Linked DNA regions of Homo sapiens: regions 2 and 3 are each linked to region 1. The links come from fine-mapping of genetic effects on gene expression. A gene starts in region 1. Each other region holds a variant in brackets. All regions are shown on one strand. Distances are between the middles of the regions.

Region 1 (8,181 bases):
TACAGTTCCAAAAGTGAAGGGGATCACGTCACTGTCCTGCTTAAAAATCTTCAATGTTCCTTGATACATAACCCTAAGGTTACAATCCAAACTTCCAAGTATATCTCCTAATGAGCTGACCCTTGTCTCTCCCATCTCACATCCCACAGCTTCTGCCTCACATTTACCATCACCCCATACCCTAAGTCTGGTTCTACTGAACCACCTGCAAGTACTGAGAACACGAACAATGTTTCATCCCGAACCTTAATTCTGCACAAGCCACTATGTAAAACTTCCTCTGAAGACACTGCTGTAAGTCCTAAGCATTAAACATGAATTAACTCTTAATCCTCACAACAACTACTATTCTCTCCACTTTACAGATGAGGAAACTGAGACACAGAGCCAACAAATAACTTGCTAGATTTCATATAGCTAATACGTTGTGACACTGGGATTTGAACCCCAGTCTTGTGGCAGAGCCTGTGGCTGTAAATACTGTGCTATCTTGCCTGAGTTCACCTTTTTTCACTACCATGTTCATCCACCTGGTGAATTCTTATTTATATTTCAATACCCACCTCAAGCAGCACTTTTCCAGGATACTTTCCCTCCTCTCCCAGAGTTAACCTCTCATTTCTTTCCTGGCATTTGTCATTGTGTCTTGGTCACACCCCTGTTATTGCATTTGTCACTGTACTGTGTCCATTTCAGAATCAACCCAATGCTACACAGAGATCAGACTGCACATAAGAATTACCTTGAGCCATGGAAGTTCCTACATTTATTTCCTGATAAGCCCTTTTACCCATCTGTATATTATTTTTGTCTCTTGCTGTCAGTTTACCAGCTCTCACTCATCCTCAGCTCCTTGCTGGCTCCAGCCCTTCAGTTTGATTCATTGTTTGCCTGCTTTGACAAATCTACCTTGCCTGCTACCTTTCCTGAACTCTCCCTCCTTTGACTGATAACCTAGAAATGAACCCCTTTCAGCGTGACCCTGGGGAGCAGCTGTCAAGCAGGCAGCCCTAACTGGGTGGGGCTGATCCCCCAACCTGGCTCTGAACAAGTCATACTTATTTGGTTTAGCTTTTTCCTTTGGTTTCATTCAAGCTACTTCATGGGGCTGAAGAGTTATTGAAAGAATAAATGTCATAGAGAAAGTAAGAAAAACTAACAACTAGGTTTAGGAAGAACAAAAACGCTAATGAAGTCAGACTGCAGGCTCTTCACTCCCAGTGGTTCACCATTTTCACAATTCAGCGAACACCCAAGTAGCCTTTTCTTTAATTTACAGTTAGCAATTGGCTTACATTCCCCTCTGTCTATTTCTTCCAAATTTCATAGCTTCCACTTACTCATGATGTCTTCTCCATAAGTTTTATTTGCCATGACTTCATGGTTCTGTCTATGCAAATGTTCAGCTTCAGCTCTTCTAAATGCCTAATTTTCTATGTGCTTCTAATTTCAGTTTCCCAAAAACAAGAAGCTTTTTGGCCCTAGTTCATCTTTCCATGTTATGTCATGAAACATCCACTACCAGCCATCCTATAGATTGGCAGTGCTGGTGTCCAGACTAACTTCAACCCAGTCCACTCTAACAGGGTCACAGTGTGTCAAATCATGCAAAACTTGGCCACCTGGGCTGCCCCTTGAGCACAGGTTCTAAGTGAGGCATTTTCTCTTAAAAAGAACTATAGTGGCCGGGCGCAGTGGCTCTCACCTGTAATCCCAGCACTTTGGGAGGCTGAGGAGGGCAGATCACGAGGTCAGGAGTTCCAGACCAGCATAACCAACATGGTGAAACCCCGTCTCTACTAAAAATACACAAAAAATTAGCAGGGTGTGGTGGCGCACACCTGTAATTCCAGCTACTCAGGAGGCTGAGGCAGGAGAATCGCTTTAACCCGGGAGGCGGAGGTTGCAGTGAGCTGAGATCACCCCGTTGCACTCCAGCCGCCTAGGCAACAAGAGTGAAACAACGTCTCAAAAAAGAAAAAAAAGAAAAGAACTGTGGTGTGTAAGGCCTCATGATTGAGTTATGGAGTAATTTAGACAAATGATTCCTTAATATGTTGGGATCATAAATTTTTCTGAGAATCAGATGAAAGATGTGGACTCTTCGCCAGAAAAATTTCTCTTATGCAAAAAATTTACATGTAACTTTAAGGTATTAAGGAACCCCAGCAGCCGTTCATGTAACACCCCCCACCACCAAAGGTTTGAAGTCTATTACCTGGCACTTGATAAGAACTGTGAGTCAAAAAGGCATTTAGACTCAGTGGCTCCAATGCTTTCAAGCAGGGAAAATGGTAGAGTGATAGTACCCTTAGCAGAGAAGACAGAAACAGGTTTGGGGAAAACTAGTTATTCCTGAATTATTGAGTCTGAAGTGCAGGTGGGACTCTCAAGTGGATTCATAAACAAGTAACTGAAAATGTGGGTCTGGAGTAGCTGAGAACTGAGATGGAGATTTGTCTCACGTGCTCAGGGCACCTGTGAGAGCAGGTGCAGGGAAGCAGTTCACACAATGCCTATAGCCCATTATCTTTCATTTGCGTCTACTCTGCAGTTTTTGGAGACCTTTCTAAGCCCTCACTTTACTTGACAGTCCTAACAATCTTATGAAACAGGAAAGGCCTATCTCAAGACCTATTACAAATAAGGAAGTGGAAGCTCAAAGGAGTGACAAGTCTGGTCAAAAGTATTGCAATGAAGTAACAGACACAAGACTGGAACCCAAGTCTTCTGATTCTTAATACAACTCCTAATTTCATTGCAAACTGCACACAGATAAATGCCTTACTAGCACGGATCAATTTTTAAGTGCAGTAGTTTGGTTTTCGGATTTTGTCTTTGTGGCTGTCCTCAGTTTACAGAAAAGTTTGAGAGAGAGGGGTGGCAATTGTCCCTTGACAATAATCCCCAGTAATCCCGTGGCAATTGATTTGGCAATACTCACCACTGTTTACTGTTAAATATCTTCCCTGTGGAGCAATAGAGAGCCCCAACTCCTAGGAACTTGTCTACAATTCTGACCCGCACTCTGTCCTAACTAACACTCTTGGTTTTGTTTTTTGTTTGTTTGTTTTTGAGATGGAGTCTTGCTCTGTCGCCCAGGCTAGAGTGCAGTGGCGCGATCTCGGCTCACTGCAAGCTCTGCCTCCGGGGTTCACGCCATTCTCCTGCCTCAGCCTCCCGAGTAGCTGGAACTACAGGCGCCCGCCACCACGTCCGGCTAATTTTTTGTATTTTTAGTAGAGACGGGGTTTTGCCGCGTTAGCCAGGATGGTCCCGATCTCCTGACCTCGTGATCCACCCGCCTCGGCCTCCCAAAGTGCTGGGATTACAGGAGTGAGCCGCTGCGCCCGGCCTGTTTTTGTTTGTTTTTTGAGACATTGTTCCGCTCTTGTTGCCCAGGCGGCTGGAGTGCAACGGCGCGATCTCAGCTCGCTGCAAACTCCACCTCCCGGGTTCAATCGATATTTCTGCCTCAGCCTCCCAAGTAGTTGGTATTACAGGCGTGTGCCACCACGCCAGGCTAATTTTGTATTTTTAGTAGAGACAGGGGTTTCACCATGTTAGTCAGGCTGATCTCAAACTCCTGACCTCATGTGATCTACCCGCCTCGGCCTCCCAAAGTGCTGGGATTACAGGCCTGAGCCACCGCGCCCGGCCCACTGCTGTTTCCAAAAGAGACCTTTTTTGCCTATCTAACCTAAATGCCCAGAATGAGCTCATACATGGGAAAGACCCACGGACATGGACAGACTTCCCGAAGACTACTGTGCAAAACTTATAATTCTAAAAAGTCAAAAATCTTCAGGAATCACAGGACGGGGTGGAGGGGGCCGGGGGGAAAGAGGAGGGAAAAGAGGGAAAGGAGGGAGAGTGAGACTGCTTAAATCGCTGGAGAGGACGGTGGGTTTATTTGAGTCTTAAAGCTCAGTTCTGTGGTTAGCGCCGGCCGCGGTCCCAGGCCCAGCCCGGGAGGCGGGGAGGGGCGGGGCAGGCGCGGAAGCTGTCTGAGTAAGGCTTGGGCAAGGCTGGGCCGGGAAGGGCGTGGGTTGAGGAGAGGCTCCAGACCCGCACGCCGCGCGCACAGAGCTCTCAGCGCCGCTCCCAGCCACAGCCTCCCGCGCCTCGCTCAGCTCCAACATGGTAAGCCTCACTTTTCTTCTTCTTCTTCTTACATGAAAAGAAAAAGAAAAGAAAAAAAACCCACATACTTCCCAGCAGACTTTATCTTTGACTTATGTGTGGACGTGGCAGGAAACAGCAGGAAAAATCAGCCTCGTGGGAGGGAACTGGGGAAGAAGGGATGGAAGGATGAAGCCCTAAAATCATCCTTGGGGTGGCCGCCTAGGGTAGCAGCGGAGGTTCTTTAGCCTTCCCAGTCACGACAAGGCCCAGGGCTGGGGAAGAGGAAGTGCTGGCCGCTCACCGCGCGGGGGGGGGACCCGTCGTGGGTCACTGCCTCCAGCCCCTCGCCCGCGGTCTCCCGGGAGCCCAGAGACGCCTAGGAGCAAGTTTAAGGCAGGGGGCTGGAAAGCTGCGAGGGGTCACTAGTTATTTCTGTACACCAGAAAAGGGACATTTTAGAACTTGGTCGTCTAGCCCCAGGGAAAATCAAAGTTTCAGTAAGCACCCGGCAGACGGCCAAGACCCAACGGGACTGAAACTTTAGCCCGTCGCCGCCCGCAGCGCCGCGGCCAAGAATGTGGGAGGAACCCGGTCCCAGCTGAGCCCTCTCCTCCTTCCTCTTCCTTTTACCCCACCATCTATTTAGGCACTCACTCCGTAACTTATTTTTCTCTTCTTATCTCCTTTCATCTCCCAGTTGAACTCATATTTTCCATAATTCCACCTCCAAAATCTCTTTCTTTACCTCTCCTTAGTGGAGAGTCAGCAAACTGGCCCGCGGGCCAAGTCGGGTTTTCTGTTCTGCCCACAAGCTAAGAATAAAGTTTACATTTGTAAATGATTGAAAGAAATCAAAAGAAGAAAAATACTTTCTGACATGTGAAAATTATGTGGAAATCAAACTTCAGCGTCCATAAATGAAGTATTGGAACAGAGCCACGCCCATTCCCTTCCATACTGTCTGGGGTTGCAGTCCTGCTACAGCAGGGACAGAAAGCTCCGGAGGGTGTTGGTTAAGAATGAGAAGACAATAGTTGAGGTTTTTAAAATTGCTACGTCTTTTTCATCGTATTTTTTTCTTTCCTCAAATGTTGAGCGCTTAGCATGCATTTTTAAAAATTATTTCACAGTATCCGTTTATCATAATGTTTGCTCCTTGCTATCGCCATCCCCACCAAGTAAGACTCCAAGAGTGCCATGAGGTGTGGAGAGCGCCGGTTCTCCTCTCCTTCAGCCACTGCGCCACCCTGGGCAGAGCTTTCCGGTTTCTGGGCGTCCTCAGGACCCATCTCCAAAGTGCCCTGGAGCTCTACAAATTATGCCGTTCCATTTTAGTAATTTGATAATTGTGTCTCTTTCTTTCACTTTGGAGAATTACCTCTGGGAGGAAATGCAAAGAGGTTTTAATTTTCTCCTTGTGGCTGATAGCAACAGCAACAGTTTTCAAAAGAAAATAATCTCTAAATTACACCAAGACTGATGTTAAGGAGAGAAAAATGTGAAGCAGAAAGGCACTGTGAAACTGGAAAAGCAAAACTGTCTGCATTCTGGAAGGAAAAGGGGCAGGGGGAGAATCTGTAGTTCCAGAGAAAGGTGACAAAGCCCATGCTCCTCAGCCTGGTGTGGCCTCCCAGCCAGTCTCCTTCCTGTCATCTGATACCTTAGTAAGACAGGGAGATTTTAGGCCTGATATGAAGGGCATGTTGTAACAGAACAAACACATCTGTTTCTAGGCTGTGGTATTTTGTTTCTCCCCTAAAGGCCCCTGAACCTACCAACACTTTTCTTAATGAAAAGTTCAATTTAGAGCAAAACAAAAACAATCATCCTCCAACAATGTGATTCTTGGGAAAAAGTCCACCTCTCTTAGGGTTCAGGGGTTCTAACGCTGTAAGATGCAATGGGAGGCAAGACTCAGCTAGGATCTCTGCAGCATAAAGGCTGTACAGGAAGGAGGAATCAATCTGCAGCTGTGTAGCTAAGGGCTCAGATCAGTTCTTAGCACGTGTTAATTACGGAGTGAGAAAGCCTCTAGCTCTGGCCTCCAGGAAGTCCATCCTAAGAACAAACGAAAGGCTAAATGCTAAGTTGCAAATGTCACCATCCAAACATAAATCATTGTTAACGCTAGTAGGTAAAGTCTCAGAGGAAGGGTGTGGCCAGGCCGGTTTCCCAGAAAGTCTGTAATTGCGGCTTCTACCCACCAGAGGGAGGCCAACAGCTCCTCACTTTTGGGACCCTAAGTCCCCTTGGGGAACCGGATGACTGGGCCCTATAGAATTTCCTTGAAAAATTCTGCTGTGAGGAAAGAGCCCAGTACAGGATTTAAATCTCTTACATTGTAGATGCTGTGTAAGCAGCAACCTGAGAGCTTCCTGGTTTGGAGTGACCTCCAGAGAAGCTCCACCTTCTCTGTCACTATTTCCCACCAGGAAGTGGAAGCCTGCAAGGCTAAGGACTGCAGAAAGGGACTGGGAGGCCCAGATTCCAGGGCTGGCTCTGCCATATCCATTCCCTTCTCCTGTCCGTTTCCTCACATCTAAGATTAATGGTTCCTAACTCTTAAATATGAAAGCCATTTTCAAACATCTAAAAAGTTCTATCTCCCACTGCATACACAATGATAGCTATGCTTTTAGTTTTCTCTAAGGAAATGTGTGAGTCCCAGGAATTCGGTATTGCTTTAAAAAGAACTGACATTTCATTAATCACAAAAGCCTCCATACACTCTTGGAAAATAAGAAATTATTAACCTATAGACAATGTTTGGTGTGCATATGGATTTGTGGATATAGAGTTACACATGTATTTATCCACACATTTTAAAAATATGAGTAAACCTTGTCACCGTCACTCTCATCTAGGCAGTCTACTGCTTTTAAACGTGCCAGCAATGCTCCACATTTACCTTCCATATATTTCACCTGGAATAAACATGTGGCGAGGGGTAGGACGGAAGGTCACAGAGTGTGACTTTTTGTGGTTGTCTTGAACCCCTCAGCCCCTTGAAAAAATGACTCAGTCTTTTAGGAAACTGCTTTGACCTGAAATAAGAGTCCCTGGAGTTTTCTCCAGTATCCAGCCTTGACATCTTCCCTTGTCTGAGCCCTGCAATTTTTTTTCTCCAAAGGCAAAAATCTCCAGCCCTACAGAGACTGAGCGGTGCATCGAGTCCCTGATTGCTGTCTTCCAGAAGTATGCTGGAAAGGATGGTTATAACTACACTCTCTCCAAGACAGAGTTCCTAAGCTTCATGAATACAGAACTAGCTGCCTTCACAAAGGTACTGGTCCCTGTCTCCCCCACTTCCCCAAACTACCCACAACATGAAACAAGACCCTGGCAGAATGGCCAGGAATGAAGGAGCAGCAACTGACACCCCACACTCTTGCTTCATTTTAACTCACTCTAAGCCAGGAGTTTTTCCATTTAGGAAGAGAGATATATGAAATGGTATATGACGTAATGGAATTATTTTCAAATTTCATTATTCTACCCCAGAGGTTCTATGGCAGCCCTGTCCAGTAGAACTTTCTGCAGTGGTGGAAATACATTCTATATCTGCTCTATCCAACATGGTAGCCACCAGCCACATGTGTCTGCTGAGTGCTTGAAATGTGGCTAGTGTGACTAACAGACTGACTTTCTAAATTAGTTAATGTAAATGTAAATGTAAATAGCCATTTGTAACCAGTGGCTCTAAGTCTGTATCTGTGTTGGCAGCTTGGGCAAGTGGAGGATGAGACTGATTAGGCAGGGCCTGTGGCCTTTTTCCACCTGAACCCGCTGTACTTTTATATAGTTTATCTATTGGAGTTGCATGCAACACTTGAAAGAAGTGTTCCACTGGCTTTACAAAACTGAATAGCCCCTAATATCATAGAAAGAGCCCTGGACTAGGAGTGGGAAAACCTTTGGTTCAAGGCCCAGGTCTGCCCCTTAGGCAGGTCACTTCACCTCTTTTAGTCTGTTTCTGCATCTGGCAAATGGGAATATTAATAATCCCTATCCTGTACCTTATACTCCTGTGAGAATAAAATGTGGCAGCATATTTGA
Region 2 (8,181 bases), 460 kb after region 1:
CTTGGCTCTCAGGAATGAGGAAGCCAGGGGATTATTAGAGGCCCTGCAGAAAACAGCAACACACACTAAAAAGCTGGTTAAAGAGGGAAAGCTGCTTGCTTTTCCAACCCAAAGGCTGTTACCCTCCTCAAATTAAGTTGCTTTTCTTTTGTGTGTGTGTGTGTGACGGAGTCTTGCTCTGTCGCCCAGGCTGGAGTGCAGTGGGCGATCTCTGCTCACTGCAACCTACGCCTCTGGGGTTTAAGAGATTCTCCTGCCTCAGCCTTCTGAGTAGATGGGACTACAGGCACCCGACACCACACCTGGCTAATTTTTTTATTTTTTGGTAGAGACGGGGTTTCACTGTGTTGGCCAGGCTGGTCTCAAAACTCCTGGCCTCAAGTGATCCGCCCACCTCAGCCTCCCAAAGTGCTGGGATACCAGGCGTGAGCCACTGCGCCCAGCCTAATTAAGTTGCTTTAACTCCTGCCATGTCAGAGCACCTTTCCTTTCCAAAGTGGAAACACTTCCTAGTGGGACATATCATAGCAAAAGGTACGTTTAAATAGAGATGAAAATGAGCCAATCAATTCTTGGCCTTAGAAATTTAGTTTGAAAAAGGTTCCAATGCACCATTTGGTTGAAATACTGTGTCACTGCCAGGCTTTTTTCTGTGCAGGGGAAAGAACAGACGAAGATGGGGAAGATGGGGCAGTTGTTCGGCAGGCAGGGTGCTGCTGCTTCTTTTCCCGTGCTGGGCTGACGCTCCAGGTTTACAGGACGCTGTTGATGACGGCTGCATGTCTGAGCAGCTCTCAACACCCAGCTCAAAGAAACAGGCCTTCATGGCAGAGGTCCCAGGGAATCAGACTCTATCCTCCCTCCACAAAATATTAAGGCAGCACAGAGGAGTTGGCTTAAAAATGACAAAACATAGGCAATAAACAGGCCACTAAAGCCAAGAGCCTTACTCGCCACACCTTTTCTTTAGGCCCTGAACACCATCTCATTCTCCTCCAGTTCCCCATTCTCCGTCTCTAATTGACAAGATCACCAAGATACAAACTGTATTTCCCTGACTACATTCCCTTTCCAAACCTGTGCCCCCCGCTCCCCTGTGTCATGCCCCTACTCTCTTTGGTTGTGGCATAACTAAACTCTAGGAAATATACACCAGTGGCATGTTTTTGTCCAAGGACTCTCTTAGACCCCTGGTTCGAGTCTCTGGAATGCCTCCAGACTGCTCCATTATCTGCAACCCAAATCTTGGTTCCTCCCACTGAGCACAGGAGGCCCGGCGGGAGCCTCCCTTTCATGTATGGCAGCACACTCACTCCAGTATTCCTCCAGCCCTGTGAGTCTTCTTGGCACCTTGGTCAACCCCGCCCTGCTTCCACCCTGTTAATATTCTAAGAGCAAGTACAGTCTAGATCTAGCCATGCCAAACAAGACTGCCAGAGAAAGAAGAGAGCCACGGGTGTCAGAAGACAAATCCGGGTCTGCAAAGGAAAGAGGTTTCCAATGTGTTTGAAGCCTGTGGTGTGAATTGGCTGAGAAGCAGGAGAAGGGGGAAGAAATCAGAGAAAAATGTACACTCTTTCAATTGAAGAAGAGAAATGGGAGCTAGAAAGGAAACAAGCCAGGGATGAGGGGTTGTTGTGTTTCTGGTTTCTTTGGCCCAGAGAAGATTCATGTAAATTCAGCTATGTCCCCATTTGGCCCTGCAGTCAACTGCCTTCTTGGCAGAAAGGAAAAAAAAAATCATGAGACTAATTGAATGATGCCCAGAGACAGCCAGAAACGAACCCCCTTGAACAGCTGCAGTCAGCATTTCCAGAGTGCTTTTCATTTCTGCAGAAGGCATGCAGTTACTCATCTACCTCCAGTGCTGCTGTTCTATCTCTATGTAATCACAGGACTCTACCTCTATCTCTTCCAAATGAGACACAATGCGGCCAGGCTTAGGGATCCTACAAGGCCATTGCTCCAGAGAGGGTCAAAGCTAAAGTTAGGGGCTGCCTCCTACAATCACGACTCAGAGCACGGAGGTGAGCTTCTTCTAATACCTCTATAAATGCCACAAAGTCCTCATATCATGGCATTTGGGATGTTTGGACCACACCTCCCACATGTGGATAACAGGGTGCCCATCTTCCAAGAAGCACTAAAATGTTCTTCTTTCATCCTCCCTGAAAAGTGAAAGGAAACCAGACCAGGAGGTCAAAGAGACACATTAATATAATTTATTAAATTCGCCATACAAAGAATATGCCACAGACAACAATATCAGAAAGGGAAGAAACATGGATATCACCTGCTCTGACCCCCTCATTTTACAAATGAGGGAACTCCCTGAAATCCCAGAGCATTGTTATGGACAAAGCCAGAATGTGAGCCCAGTCTTGAGACACAGAAACACACAGACTTAAGGATTCTGGCTGCGTGAGCCACATAGAGCCTAAACACTTAATCCACATTTGTTTTGAATTTTTCTGATTCCTATAGTACCATACTCTGATGCCTATCTACTTCTCAAGGTTGTAGGAAGAGCCCTAAAGAAAAACACCATGGGCCGGGCGCAGTAGCTCAAGCCTATAATCCTAGCACTTTGGGAAGCCGAGGTGGGTGGATCACCTGAGGTCAGGAATTCGAGACCAGCCTAGCCAGTATGGTGAAACCCCATCTCTACTAAAAATACAAAAATCAGCCAGGCGTGGTGGCACACCTGTAGTCCCAGCTACTCGGGAGGCTGAGGCAGAAGAATCGCTTAAATCCGGGAGGCAGAGGTTGCAGTGAGCTGAGATCGCGCCACTGCACTCCAGCCTGGGTGACAGAGTGAGACTCTGTCTCAGAAAAAAAAAAAAACAATAAAAAAAGAAAACCATGATGACCTGCAGGGTCATTCAGAGCCAGGATAAAAGACCAATTATGGAGCAAGGGGTTCAGAAGGGCTAGTGAAGAACTCATCTGGGTCCCAGAAGAGTCCTGATTGCCCTCTTTCTCCAAACAACATATACTCTGACCCCAAAGCCTCAGGGAAAGTAGACTCACCTTCCTTAGCTGCAGAGCAAGTTTGAAGGAGAAAGAGAGAAGAAACAGGCAGAGGAAAGGGAGAGAAAGATTCATAATAGTGTCACTCTGACATTAACAAGCCTAATGGGAACAGTTTTCCCGGTTTCAAGCAAATCCAAATACTGCAAGAGAAGGCTATAGAACTTTGGTATTATATCAATCATGAGATGTAAGCAAAACCACCAATAACTTAGCAAAATAAATACAAAGAGGATTTTGCTGGGACTGGTGGAACCCAGTGAAAACAGTTTTCAGGCTCTGGGTCAAGAAGACTGAGGTGTGCCTGGTGGTACACCTTAGGGAAAATCCCTAAAGAGACTCTGGGAGTTTTCACAGCAGAGAGAAGTCACACATGACTGTCTGTAGCCCTAGAGAATTTTTCCGCAAAAGGCTACTCCCTGAATGTACATTCCCTCCTCCCCAGAAAGACAAGGCCACCCAGTCAAAGCTTAGGTTCACTGGCTCTCACCAGGCCTTGCCAGGTAACCCCACTATCTGTCTGCAGGAGGCCAGGGCAGCGTAGGCTGCAGATGGAGCAAGTAGAAAAACAAACAGTTTGTTGCTAAGAACTGAGCTGTGTTTGTGGAAGGAACTTCATTCCCCCAGGACATTCTCCAATCACTCTGGACATCTGTGTCTCCAGCTTTTAGGGCTGAGGCAAATCTTGTCACCTCTCCCAATCTGATGAAGGCCTGGCTTATGGCACAGCCAGAGTCCAGTCTACAACAGAAGGGAGGCTCTCTACAGAGAAAAATAGTCACTGTAGGAATATAGATATTGCCCTGGCTCCTGCTTGCAGGACAATGTCTTCCAAAGGGCTGCAGTGCCTTGAATAGGTGCTCGTGCTCCGTCTGCCCAGCTTAGAGTGGCCAGGGGCTTGGGAATGGTGAGACACAGGAGCC[C/T]GAAGTCCTGGGTGCAGCCAGGGGACAGTCAGGAAGTCAAAGGCAGTGTTAACAGCCAACAGGGGCAGTGGGCTTCTCCGAGGCAGAGGCAGCAGCAATGGCAGCAACCATCTCCAGGCAGCTCAGGTTTCCACCACTCGGATGACAGGCATGGGCTTCGGGCTAGGCGGCTTGGATATCCTAATACTGAAAAGAAGGTTGGAAACACTGAGTTGTGCTGGGAACAGCTGTGTTGTGGCCCACCCTTCACAGAGCCCCTGGAATCTTCACATTGGCCTCTGGAATCTTACACTGCAGTGCTGGCTGATCACTTGGGTTCCAAGTGCTTTAAAACAGTAATTATCAGTGACAACTAGGGGAAGATTTGGGGCATGATACATGTGTCTTGTAGCAAGGGTGAAGAAAAGAGAGGGGCAGTTAAACAACTGAGAAGTGGATATAGCTGTGATTCTCGATTTTGTCAAGATCATGGGTCCTTTTCTGAATCTCTTAGAGGCAAAATACCCTCTCCCTAGAAATATGCAAACATTATAACTAAATTTTTCCTACCATTTCAGGTGGTTCATACATCTCTAGAAGCCATTCATGGACCTCCCTGGGCTTGTGTTAACAGGTTCTACTCTAATTGGGCTAGAAAATGGTTCCGGCAAACAGTGGGTCAGACTGAGGGAGGAAAGTTGGATTTAAAGGAGCCTTGTTCTTGCCTTAGCACTAAAGGTTCTACAGAGCTCTGTCCCTCCTTCTCCCCTCCTCCCTGGCCCCATTCTATCTACACACGCTCACTCACCTGCCCGGGTTCTCTGTCTTGGCCCGGGCCTGGGTGCTGAAGTTGCCATGACTGATTTGTTTTTCTATCAGGTGTTCCATCCGGTCATGCATCTCTAAATTCTGTAACACAAGCTTAGGGGTTAGAGTTGGCCTTTTTCTGGCTTCCCGGGTGCCACGTTCAGCTAGTGCATTCTGGTCTCTCTGCCTGTGTTTATGCTGCTGTTGCCTCTACCCCCACCATGCGTGCCACCACCTGGATACCCACTTGCCTCATCTTCATTACCATAGATTGCGCTTATCCTCCAATACCTGCTCCTCCATAACTCTGTACAACACTGACAGACTGATGGTTTCCTATATGTCCTCTACATACAGTTCTTTTTTTTTTTTTTTTTTTTTTGAGATAGGGTCTCACTCTGTTGCCCAGGCTGGAGTGCAGTGGCGTGATTATAGCTCACTGCAGCCTCGACCTCCTGGGTTCAAGTGATCCTCTCCTTTAAGTCTCCCAAGTAACTGGACTACAGATGCATGCCACCACATCTGGTTAATTAAAAAAATTTTTTCTTTTTCAGAGACAAAGTCTCACTATGTTGCCTAGGTCTTGAACTCCTGGCCTCGAGCAATCCTACCGCCTCAACCTCCCTAAGTGCTGGGATTACAGGCATGAGCCACTGCACCTGGCCCCTATATATAATTTTTTGTCCTCAGTTGAGATACTCACTTGCCTTTGTTGATACGCTATTCTATAAAGCATTCTTTGGTCTTTTTAAAAATACACATTTTATCTCTGACTATAGACTGCAAACTCTCTAAAGATAACCCTTTCTCCCATTTTTCTCCCTCACTACAGGGGATCTTCACAGAGCGTTCGCAAAGTGATCTTCAGGTAGTCAACAGACAGGTAGGGCCCTGTGGCAAAGTGGAAATTAGACTAGGAAGGCAACTCGTTACGTAATCTAGCCCTGGAAAAGGCTCCATCTGTATGAATGCCTCCTCCTCCTTCACAGCCCAGCACCACTGCCAGCTCCTTTGCAAAGCCTGGAGGGTCAGAATTAGCCGTGTGCAGCCATGGCATGTGGCTTGCACCATGATGACATGTCCGTTGAAGGTGGGGCCAGGGGGGTGGTCATCTCATCATTGTTAGCAGCTTCCTGAAGGTTCTCAGAAAATGTTTATTCAGCTGAACTGAAAGTCAACCAACCACCCTAGGTATTCACTTCAGAGCAACAGCAAGACATGACAAAGACCCCTCCCATAACCTCTGTCTCCCTTATGTCCACCTTCTCTTCAAGAGTCCTGTTCCCCTGCTGGGCTGCCCAGCACACACACCTCTGCCTCCAGATAGGCGATTTTCTCCTTGAGCTCCTGGATGGTGGCGTCCTTTGACTGGATCACAGCTTTTGAATTCTGGAGCTGCAAAGGTGTGGGAGACACTGGAGCTCATTTTGCAATGACTCATTACACACTCACCAGACTTCACCCCAGCTGCTGGGGAAGGCAGCAGAGCCCTGCAACTCCATATGACTTCATTAGCTTTTCTACAAAGGCCTCCTTTCAGTCAATATTAGACTCTTGATTATCCCAGGGGTGGGAGTGAGGAGTGTGTGAGGGGAATACCACCCTGAGAATCCAAAATAATGAATGACAAAACCCATTCCATATGGCTTTGGAAAATACAAATTATTTTTTCATTCAAGACATATTTATTGAGTACTTACTATATGACTGACTCTGTTCGAGATAATGGAAAACAGCACTAAATAAAACAGACACTAATGGAGCTGACATGAAGCACATACAGCCTCCCAGTTATGGGGCCTTAGGCTCTCAAAACAATTCTGCAAATAGACAAATCCTAAGTATGCTACCCTCAAGCTCAGGTGGGGTAAGGCAGGAAAGCAGCCATGAGGCTCAAAGACTGATAATCTGCACAGATAACAGAGTTTATTATGACTCAACTACTCATTTACCCACACTCTTCACAGAGTATATGACAAATTAACCTTTTCCTTCCTTTCCTATTGGAAAGCAGAGGCCAAATGGCAAACAAACAAACAAAACAGTAGGGGAAAGATGGGAGAAAAGCAAATCCTAATAACCTGAACCTGGTAATTGGTAGCTATAAATGTTTGACATGGGAAATGCATGAATATAAGTCAAGCTCCCTAGGAAACAAATAAGAGCATAGACTTGGGGTGACTCCCCGAGGGCAGGTTACAAACCAGCCCAACTTACCTGCTCTATCATTTGCCGGACTTTCCGCTGCTGGCTCTTGAGCATGTCATCCAAGTGGTGGATCTTCTCCCGCAACCCGGCCACTTCCTTTTCCAGGGTAGCAGCCCTGGGGATAAAGACCAGAAGGCTGAGGCAATGGAACAAGATCACTTATTTACCCAGTCACAGGAAGAGCCTTGAGCTTGGGAGGTTCCCATTAATATGATTCCCTTTGCCTGATTCCCTGGTAGGCTGCTCTGAAGAGTAGGTGGTGGGTACCTTAGAATATCACATTGGAAGCACTGAGGTCAGGAGTTCAAGACCAGCCTGGCCAACATAGTGAAACCCCACCTCTACTAAGAATACTAAAATTAGCCAAGTGTGGTGGCGTGTGCCTGTAGTCCCAGCTACTCAGGAGGCTGAGGCACAAGAATCGCTTGAACCCAGGAGGCAGAGGTGGCAGTGAGCCAAGATGGCGCCACTGCACTCCAGCCTGGGTGACAGAGCAAGACTTTGTCTCACAAAAAAAAAGAATATTACATTGGAAGCATCATCAGGGATCACCTAGTCTAAGAGAGGAAACTGAGGCTCGGAAAGGTTAGAAGGGATAAGTCATTCTGGATAACTCTGGAGGGTAAATCTAGAAGCAACAGGTAGATGGTTCCAGGGAAGCTGTTTTTATATTAACACAGGAAAGACTTTCTTAGTATTAAAGCTGTCAGAAAGTGGCCAGTCTCATGTGTAATGAACTCCTCGTTACTGGAAAGATTCAAGTAGAAGCTAGGATTTCCCTCTCCGACCTTTTCTTTTTTTTTTTTTCCGGAGACAGGGTCTCACTCTGTAGCCCAGGCTGGAGTGCAATAATGCAAACATGGCTCACTGCCAGGTTGACCTCCTGGGCTCAAGCAATCCTCCTACCTCAGTCTCCCATGTAGCTGGGACTACAGGCACATGCCACCACATCTGGCTAACTAAAAAAAAATTTTTTTTGTAGAGACAGTCTCAGCATGTTGGCCAGGCTGATCTCGAACTCTTAAACCCAAGCAATCCTCCTGTCCCGGCCTCCCAAAGTGCTAGGATTACAGGTGTGAGCCGCCATGCCCAGTTGGAGCTGGGATTATTATACTCAACACCATCAAGCTGTTGGCAGGGATTTGGAGGAGAAAGACAGAATTTGAGGCTCCTTAAAGCCTCTTCACACAATTTTGTTTCTAGGTCTCCTGATTCCCAAACCACTGTTGCTTCC
Region 3 (8,181 bases), 280 kb after region 1:
CGCCATGTTGGCCAGGCTGGTTTCAAACTCCTGGGCTGAAGTGACCCACTTTGGGAGACCCACCTTGGCCTCCCAAAGTGCTGGGATTACAGGCATGAGCCATCTTGCTTGGCTTGCATACCCTGTGACCCTGACATGTTTCCTCTCCTTTGACTCAAACTCATAATTCCTTTCAGACAGTGAAATTTCTAAAAAGCTGTCGCCTGGAGGTAGGGATGAAGAACAATGTCAAATGGGAGCTGAACCCTGAAATAGTTGCCCGCCACTTCTTTAAGAATGTGAGTGAGTGTTCCCAAAAACCACTCTACCCCTGAGGTGGAAGCTGCCTCTGGAAAGGAGGCCTGGGATTGATCCCTTTGTTAGGAAGGGGTGTGATCATCCAGTTGTAGTTAAGGAAAGTATTCTTGGTTAGTTTGCAGGAATATGGGAAGGAAATGGCTAAGGACTAAGGATGGTCACATAGAATTTGAAGACTGATAGGAAAAGGTGGTGGTTTCCATTTATTTCCTGTCTACCTAGGGAAATGCTGGGGATTTGTGACTCACTGGAGAATTGTTACTTTTGTGGATGAAGTGGTTTTGGCCTCAAGCCCTGTTTCTCTTTGTGAATCTACCTCCCTTTCTGAGAAATCAGAATTGAATTTCTCTACTACCGTCTATGAAGGTGTATGCCCTTCTCTCCCATGGAATCAGCCAGAGTAGACACCCCAGTTTTATTCATCCCTGTGCAGGGAATCCTGTAACCCTCTTTATGAGGTTCCCTAGAGTGGCAGTCATGAAAACAGAGTTCATTTGAGCTGAGATTTTTTTTTTTTTTTTTTTTTTTGCAGCTTGGTGTTGTGGTTGCCCCACATACATTAAAGTTACCAGAAGAGCCTATCACACGGTGGGGCGAGTATTGGTGTGAGGTGACGGTGAGTGTTTTGCATACTTTCTTTTTTCTTTTCTTTCTCCTTTTCCCCCACTTTTTCCTTTTTTTCCTTTCTCTTAAAGACAGGGTTTTGTTTCATTGCCCAGGCTGGATTCAAACTCCTGGGTTCAAGCGATCCTCCCACCTCAGCCTCCCAAGTAGCTAGGACTACAGGCGTTAGCCACCGCACCTAGCACCTACCTCTCCCTTTTTTCTAATTTTTTTTTTTTTTTTTTTTTTTTTGAGCTGGAGTCTCACTCTGTTGCCCAGACTGGAGTGCAGTGGCACGATCTCAGCTCACTGCAACCTCCACCTCCCAGGTTCAAGCGATCCTTCTGCCTCAGTCCCCCTAGTAGCTGGGATTACAGGCACACGCCACCGTGCCTGGCTAATTTTTGTATTTTAGTAGAGACAGGGTTTCCCCATGTTGGCCAGGCTGGTCTCAAACTCCTGACCTCAGGTGATCCACCTGCCTCAGCCTCCCAAAGTGCTGGGATTACAGGCATAAGCCACTGTGCCCAGCCCTAGCTCTCCTTTTTCTGACTGGGAGAAAAGTCAGGGTGAAAAGCTGGGATTAGGTGGTGCTAAATCTTACTTACCTGACTGATCTCTGAGAATTCCCATTGTTTTGTGTGCAGGTAAATGGGCTTGATACTGTGAGAGTGCCTATGTCTGTCGTGAACTTTGAGAAGCCCAAGACCAAAAGATATAAGTACTGGTTAGCCCAGCAAGCTGCCAAGGCTATGGCCCCCACCAGCCCCCAGATCTAAATCTACTCTCCCTCCAAGGCAGCAAAGCAGAATCGGGAGCAGTGGAGCAGAAATGTGCAAGCACCCTGATCTCACTCCCAGCTCTGACCAAATACAGAATTTTAGAGAACATCTGAAGACATCAGACTGCACTGCGTATACATGTTGAATTCTTCATTTTTGCCATCTTTAACTGTCATCACTGGGGCAGGGAAGTCCTGTTCCAGAAGTACCAGGCTGTAGATTTGATAAGCTAGATGCAGTAGACCGAAACCATCCAAAACCTGTTTAGCTTCTTCCTCCATTGGAGTTTATTGGGACAAACAGGAGAGCCAGCCATTGTCTCCAGTACTTGCCTCATTCTCATCATCCAAACTGAACATTTGTATCCCAAGCAGAAATAAAGAGAATATGTTCTTTTTAAGTAAGTGTTGCTTACTGGTCTTGAGTAGATGAGACAGGACATCCAACTGAGATTTCCTTGAGTCACAGAGGTTTGCTGCTAAAAAGGAAAGAAGAGAATATCTTAGACTGCATCCCACAGTTACTGTGGTATGAACAAATTGTGCTGAACAAGTTGATGATGTGTTTGGTCTTAACACTTACTCTTCTTAGATACATTGATGTAGTCATCAATGTGAATAAGCACAATGGATTCTGCTTCTCTAAGACCTGAGTAAGGCCTAAGGGTAATTGTTGGAAAGCTGGGATGAAAGAAGCTTAAAAAGGGAACTTTTTTCCTTGAACCAGCTCCTGAAATTCTGAAAAAGAAGTTACCTTAATTTTCTAGACCAAGATTAAGATAGGGAGCTAGTCAAAAGGTAACTCTGGAATGGATGAATGGATGTCTTGATGGGAGATAAACGAAAGTAGATAGTTTTTTCCTTTTTCTTTTTCTTTTTTTTTTTTTTTTTTGAGACAGAGTCTTGCTCTGTCACCCAGGCTGGAGTGCAGTGGCATAATCTCAGCTCACTGCACCTCCGCCTCCCTGGTTCAAGTGATTCTCCTGCCTCAGCCTCCCGAGTAGCTGGGACTACAGGCATGTGCCACAGCACCCGGCTAATTTTTTATATTTTTAGTAGAGATGGGGTTTCACCATATTGACCAGGATGGTCTCAAACTCCTGACCTCATGATCCACCCTCCTCGGCCTCCCAAAGTGCTGGGATTACAGGCAGGCATGAGCCACCATGCCTGGCCTGAAAGTAGATAGTTTTCTGTAAGTTCAGAGTTTCATTAGTAGAAAAAAACATTCATTTTCAGGTGGATTGTGCCAAGGTCACTCAAATACAATGTGAGGTCATGCAGTTTAGGGTAGTAAAGATGGGATCATTGACTCCTTTGCTATCCATACCAGACATTGGTTTCTTTCCTATTTGAGCTCACCTACCACTCTGAGTCAGTTAAACACTTTCATCCCATCTCAGCTAATGAGAAAGTCTGTCATCAGTAGTTGCACTGATAACTATAGCCAACTTCATACTTGACAGAGCTCTGTAACTCAAGTGTGGCACTGGCACTATCTGAAATTTAGCATTTCTCCCCTCCCCACCCTTTTCTTTTCTTTTTTTTTTTTTTTTTTGAATGGGAAAATAACATTATTTCACATTAGGGAGTAGGCAGGCATCCAGACTCAGAACTGGAATTGCTTCTTGGTGGCATTGGGGACCATGAGCATGTTGAAGTGTACCATCTTGCTCATGCTGGTGCTTACCCAACCATGATGATGTTGCTGATCTGGACATCCCTGATGCAAGGGGATGGGTGCATGAACATGTTCTTGTGCTTCTTGAAGCAACTGTACTTACACATGTAGTGGAAATAGTCTTGGTGGATGATGTTGATCTTTTGCATCTTTTATCTTGGTCACCATGCCAGACAGGATCCACCCTCAGATGGAGATGTTACCAATAAAGGGCAATCAGTGTAAATATAGGTGCCCTCATAGCCTATTTGGGCATATTGAAGCCCAAACTGATTTTTTTTTTTTTTTTTTTTTTTTTTGAGATGGAGTTTCGCTCTTGTTGCCCAGGCTGGAGTGCAATGGCACGATCTTGGCTCACTGTAATCTCTACCTCCCGGGTTCAAGCGATTCTCCTGCCTCAGCCTCCCAAATAGCTGGGATTACAGGAGCCCACCACCACGCCCGGCTAATTTTTTGTGTATTTTTAGTAGAGACGGGGTCTCACCATGTTGG[C/T]CAGGCTGGTGTTGAACTCCTGACCTCAGGTGATCCACCCGCCTCGGCCTTCCAAAGTGCTAGGATTACAGGCATGAGCCACTGCACCCAGCCCCAGACTGATCTTATGGTCCTATAGGAACTTCTCATTGCCAGTATCTCCCAGCAGGACCCTCTTGTTTTGAAAGATGGTTGACTGCTTTTGGTAGGTACACTCAGTCTTGGATTTAACAGAACTTCCTGAAAGGTTTGAGCCTCCATTAACTTGCAGAGACCCCAGTATTTAGGAAGCGCTAATCTAGATTGAAGTAGATGCATACACTTCTGTACCCCAGTTAATCCCTAGTGAGTTGGGGACACCCAGAATTAACCCCCAAACTGAAGCACAGAGTTCTGCCATCCTGGACACGCTCCTGAGGTTTGGGGAGGACCTGCAGCCTCGGCATGAGCCCCAAGCCCACTGAAATTTGCCATTTCAATGATCCCCATTCCTATTGTCCTTGAAATGGTAGGCTAATTAAACACACACAGCATCTCTCAACATGACCATCACGAAACTCTCTGAAATTGAGCAACGAGCACACATTTCACACAGCTAACCTTAAAAAGCATTTAAATACCTGCCATAGGTTGAGTTCTTGGCAAAAACACTCTGTGTTGGAGATTCACATGCAGGAAGTTTATTGGGAGGAGTTATCTGCATCAACACCTATTGGGGAGTAAAGGCAGTAGAATTGGGTAGAGGGAGAAATTGAGCTGATGCAGTCTTAACAAACGCCTCAGTCAATCAGGAGCTCAAACTAGGATGGCTCTGCAGGATGCCCCAGTAGGGTAAGTGGGCTGGACCTTATCTCCCCACTTGACCAGGAAAGGGGTATGATCATGAGTGAGGTGGCTAACTTCAGCCAAAGGCGGTCCCTGGATGAGGCACAGGTGACAGCTGTCAGCATTCTTAGCAGCTTCAGTCCTCAAGGGGAAAATATGGGCAGCACACCACAGTCAACACTGCAGTCCACCCTTTGCACTGCTCAGACTGATTTGTTTCATTAGTTCTGGAATGGTTTCTTCAGGATTCTGATGGATCTCTTTCTGGGGAAACTTAAAAGAGGAAGGTCTGGAACAGGCCACAGCCTCTGCTGCTGTAGCTTGAGTTTGCAACTGGCATTCACCTCCCTTCTCTACTACCTATTGTTGATCTTTCCCCAACCCCCTTGAGGGGGTTGTACCTCTGGTTCACGTGGGTTACCAGATGAGGTACCTGGCCATCATGCCCTTCTCAGACTATGACTGCACTTGTTCATTTATCATCAAAATTGGGCAAGGAGAAACATACTCAAGTGGATGATCTGGGTGCCAGATATATTCTTCCCTGTCCCCACTGTGTAATAGCAGCCCCACCTCCTGATAATGACTCATTTCCTTGCCTTGTTTCTTGGTAGTGATTTGGAGTAATCTAGTGCCTGCCATAGCTTAAAGTTTAGTGAGATTCAGTGTGTTCACTGGTGCAAATATTCCCCTTCTGGGAACCAGGACTTCTAAACCCTTAGAGACCAGAGTTGGGATAGAAGGCACAGTTTCTTCAATTGGGTCACTGGGAGTGATGATAATGCGGGCTGCTCCTACACCCACCCTTTGTTCCCCAGAGCCATATATTTTCCTTAAGGATACACTATTCAATGGCTATTGGTCTCAGGTATGTACTGCATCATGAAGGATGATGCCTTCTCCTTACAGGTTATCATCTCCAATCCGGTGCCTTAGCTGTGCTTTTAACAAGCACTCTATCAGGGAGCAGCTTCTGCATAGTACGGTATGTGATTAAAGCCAATCCTACCATCATGTGCCCAGCATTGTACCTCCTTGCTATCAAGTGGGTCTCTTGGTTTGATGCAATGTTACACAAGATTTCAGGCCAATGGATCAAAATTTTGTAAACCTTTGGATGGTGTTGCTGACCGAGGCTGTGCAGGCAGGAAAGGCAAACCAGTACCCATAATATACATCAGTGCCCCTTCAAAATAGAACACTTCCCCTTCCAAGGTAGCAAGGATACAGTGTAATCAACTTACCACCAAGTGGCTAGACGGTTTCCTTGAGGAATGGTGACATCAGGCTAAGTGTTGGTCTCTGTTGCTGGCAAGCTGGACATTCACTGATGCAGTAGTTAGATCAGACTTGATGAGTCCATGACGTTGAACCCTTGCATTTGCTCCACCATGGCTCCTCCGTTCATTGATCACTTTGCCAGCATTGGGGTGCCAGCAACAAAGCCTGGTTAACATTATTTGGCTAAGTCATTCCATCTGCTTGGTTGGTACCTTTTCTGTGGTGGATGTTATCTGATGGGAATTAACCTGCAATACAAAAATCATCACACTGTATACCCATTCTCGGGTATGTTATGTTCCTTTTCCCCACACTTCCTTGTTTTTAATCTTCCAGTTTGCCTTCCAGGCCCATGAGTCTATATATATTCTTACTTCTGGCAGGTACACAGGCCATCTAAGTGGGGCCATAGTGCAGCCACAGTGTATTTCCAGCCTACTTTCACCTAATGAGACAACCAGTACATTAACCAAGCTCAGCCTTTTTCCTCTTCTGTCATCAGGTCATGAGGGATCTCCGATCCATGTGGCTACAGATGTAAACTGAGAAAGCACCACCAGTGCATCAATAGTGGGTGACAGGGCATCTGGGCACCTGCTTATGTAGCTCACTTTTGCCTTCCAGCCCTGCTTGTTCCCAATTCTACATATGCCACTTTCATTTTATGAAGGATGACCGGTCGACCCACCCAGCCTTATGACTTGTGGGTTTGACAGAACCCAGGTTATAATACATCATGACTTAACGTCCCATAGGTAAGCACATTGTCTCAACTAGTACTCGGTAGCATTCCAGGAGCTATCTTTTGAAAGGTATATAATGCTCTGTTTCAGATGGCATGGCATTGCTCCAGCACTATAGGGGGCTGTGTGTGACTTACTATTGGGATTTATCACGAACAGTATATGATCTTTTCTCACCACTGACACCTCTAATATAATATGGTGTCTTGTGATCCAAGCCGCAGGGCCATTTGTACCACAGTCTTGGCCTGCTACAGAGCTTTTACCTGCTCTGGGACCCACTCAAAGTTGGCAGGCTTTTGTGTCACGTATGATATTTGTGTCAAAGCAACATTTCCAAGTATGGAATATGCTAGCAATAGACCCCAAGACATTTGCAAGGCATTGTGCTTTTTAGTGGTGAGAAATACGAGATGCAAAATTTCTCCTTATCATCTTTGGAGGGAATGTCCTGGTATGCTTCAGACCACTGGACTTTTAAAAACTTCACTGATCTGGCAAGATCCTGAATATTTGTAGGATTCTTGCCCTACTATTTGAAGAAGATTTATCCTACCAAGGCCTCTGATACAGGTATCATTTCAGGTTCATCCTGTACAATTACCATGATGTCATCAGTGCAGTAATGGGATGTCCTATGGAATGTCCTAATGGTCCAGGTCCCTTCAGACTATATTATGACAGAGGCAGGAGAGTTTACATGGTCCAGAGGCAAAACTGGAAATGTATATTATTGCTCATCTCAGTGAAAGCAAGCTTTTATGATCTTCCTTTCTACAAGGATGAAAAAGGGTGCATTGTCCAGATCAATACATACCATGTAGGCTGCGTTAATCTTTTCCAGCAAAGATATCACATTTGGAACAGCAGATAGAATTAGCATTATTTGTTGATTGAGATTGCAGTAATCCATACTCATTCTCCAAGATCTGTCTGGTTTTAGCAGTTGCCAGACTAGTGAATTAAATGGCAATATGATGGGCACCACCACCTCTGCATTCTTTAGGTCTTCAAGCAGGGCACTAATGGAGTAATTTTTATTTATTATATTGGTCTGGAATGGTGGAGGCAGTTCCAGACACTTCATGTTGGCCTTCCTCACTATGATATTTCCTACCTCACAAACCAAAAAACCAACCTGGTGGTTCTGCCAACTGTCAAATATGTCTATTCCAACTGTCCATTAAGGACTCATGAAGTAACTACTAGGTGAGTCTGTAAACCTGGTAGACCTACTGAGAGTCAGAGCTGGAGCTGGAATACAATTATTACCTAGCCTCCACACCCTGCAACTCTAACAGAGGTCCATAATGGAGCTTCCAATCCTAGGGTGTCAATGTCAATGGACTCTATCCAACAGTGCTTTAAATGTTTGCATAGTCCTCTTTCTCTCCTGTGTCTTATGAAAATAAAAGGTCATAAGTCCCTGTGGGTTAGGATTGGGAAAATTACTACCTTATATACTTGTCATGGTGTCTCAGGGTCCTTTCTGCTAGAGA

Direction of the effects. Alleles are on the strand shown, and positions count from the first base shown. SD is a standard deviation of normalised expression in the study named. Not every link is listed here.
For the expression in monocytes of the gene that starts at base 4,052 in region 1, allele T in region 2 goes with a lower level than allele C (large effect, 2.1 SD a copy in Quach 2016).

The links. PIP is the estimated chance that this variant, and not a neighbour inherited with it, causes the effect.
Region 2: its variant is fine-mapped to the expression of S100A11 in monocytes (Quach 2016, PIP 0.95).
Region 3: its variant is fine-mapped to the expression of S100A11 in whole blood (TOPMed, PIP above 0.99).

The regions. Positions count from the first base shown.
Region 1 is chr1:152,032,875-152,041,055 of GRCh38, reverse strand. It overlaps S100A11 (S100 calcium binding protein A11), which reads left to right and starts at 4,052. Exons shown (of 3, transcript NM_005620.2): 1 at 4,052-4,143; 2 at 7,256-7,408. The coding sequence starts at 4,141. RefSeq lists enhancers at 2,432-2,591, 5,689-5,983 and a silencer at 4,549-4,843.
Region 2 is chr1:151,577,602-151,585,782 of GRCh38, reverse strand. TUFT1 (tuftelin 1) reads right to left here. Exons shown (of 13, transcript NM_020127.3): 10 at 6,957-7,062; 11 at 6,051-6,134; 12 at 4,741-4,841; 13 at 2,200-4,139. The coding sequence ends at 4,076. Among named protein-coding and RNA genes, the nearest start is that of SNX27, 30 kb to the left of the region's middle. The variant C/T (reference allele first, on the strand shown) is at 3,954.
Region 3 is chr1:151,753,548-151,761,728 of GRCh38, reverse strand. MRPL9 (mitochondrial ribosomal protein L9) reads left to right here. Exons shown (of 7, transcript NM_031420.4): 5 at 177-278; 6 at 830-913; 7 at 1,548-2,082. The coding sequence ends at 1,679. It also overlaps the pseudogene RPS11P3. Among named protein-coding and RNA genes, the nearest start is that of MRPL9, 5.9 kb to the left of the region's middle. The variant C/T (reference allele first, on the strand shown) is at 3,855.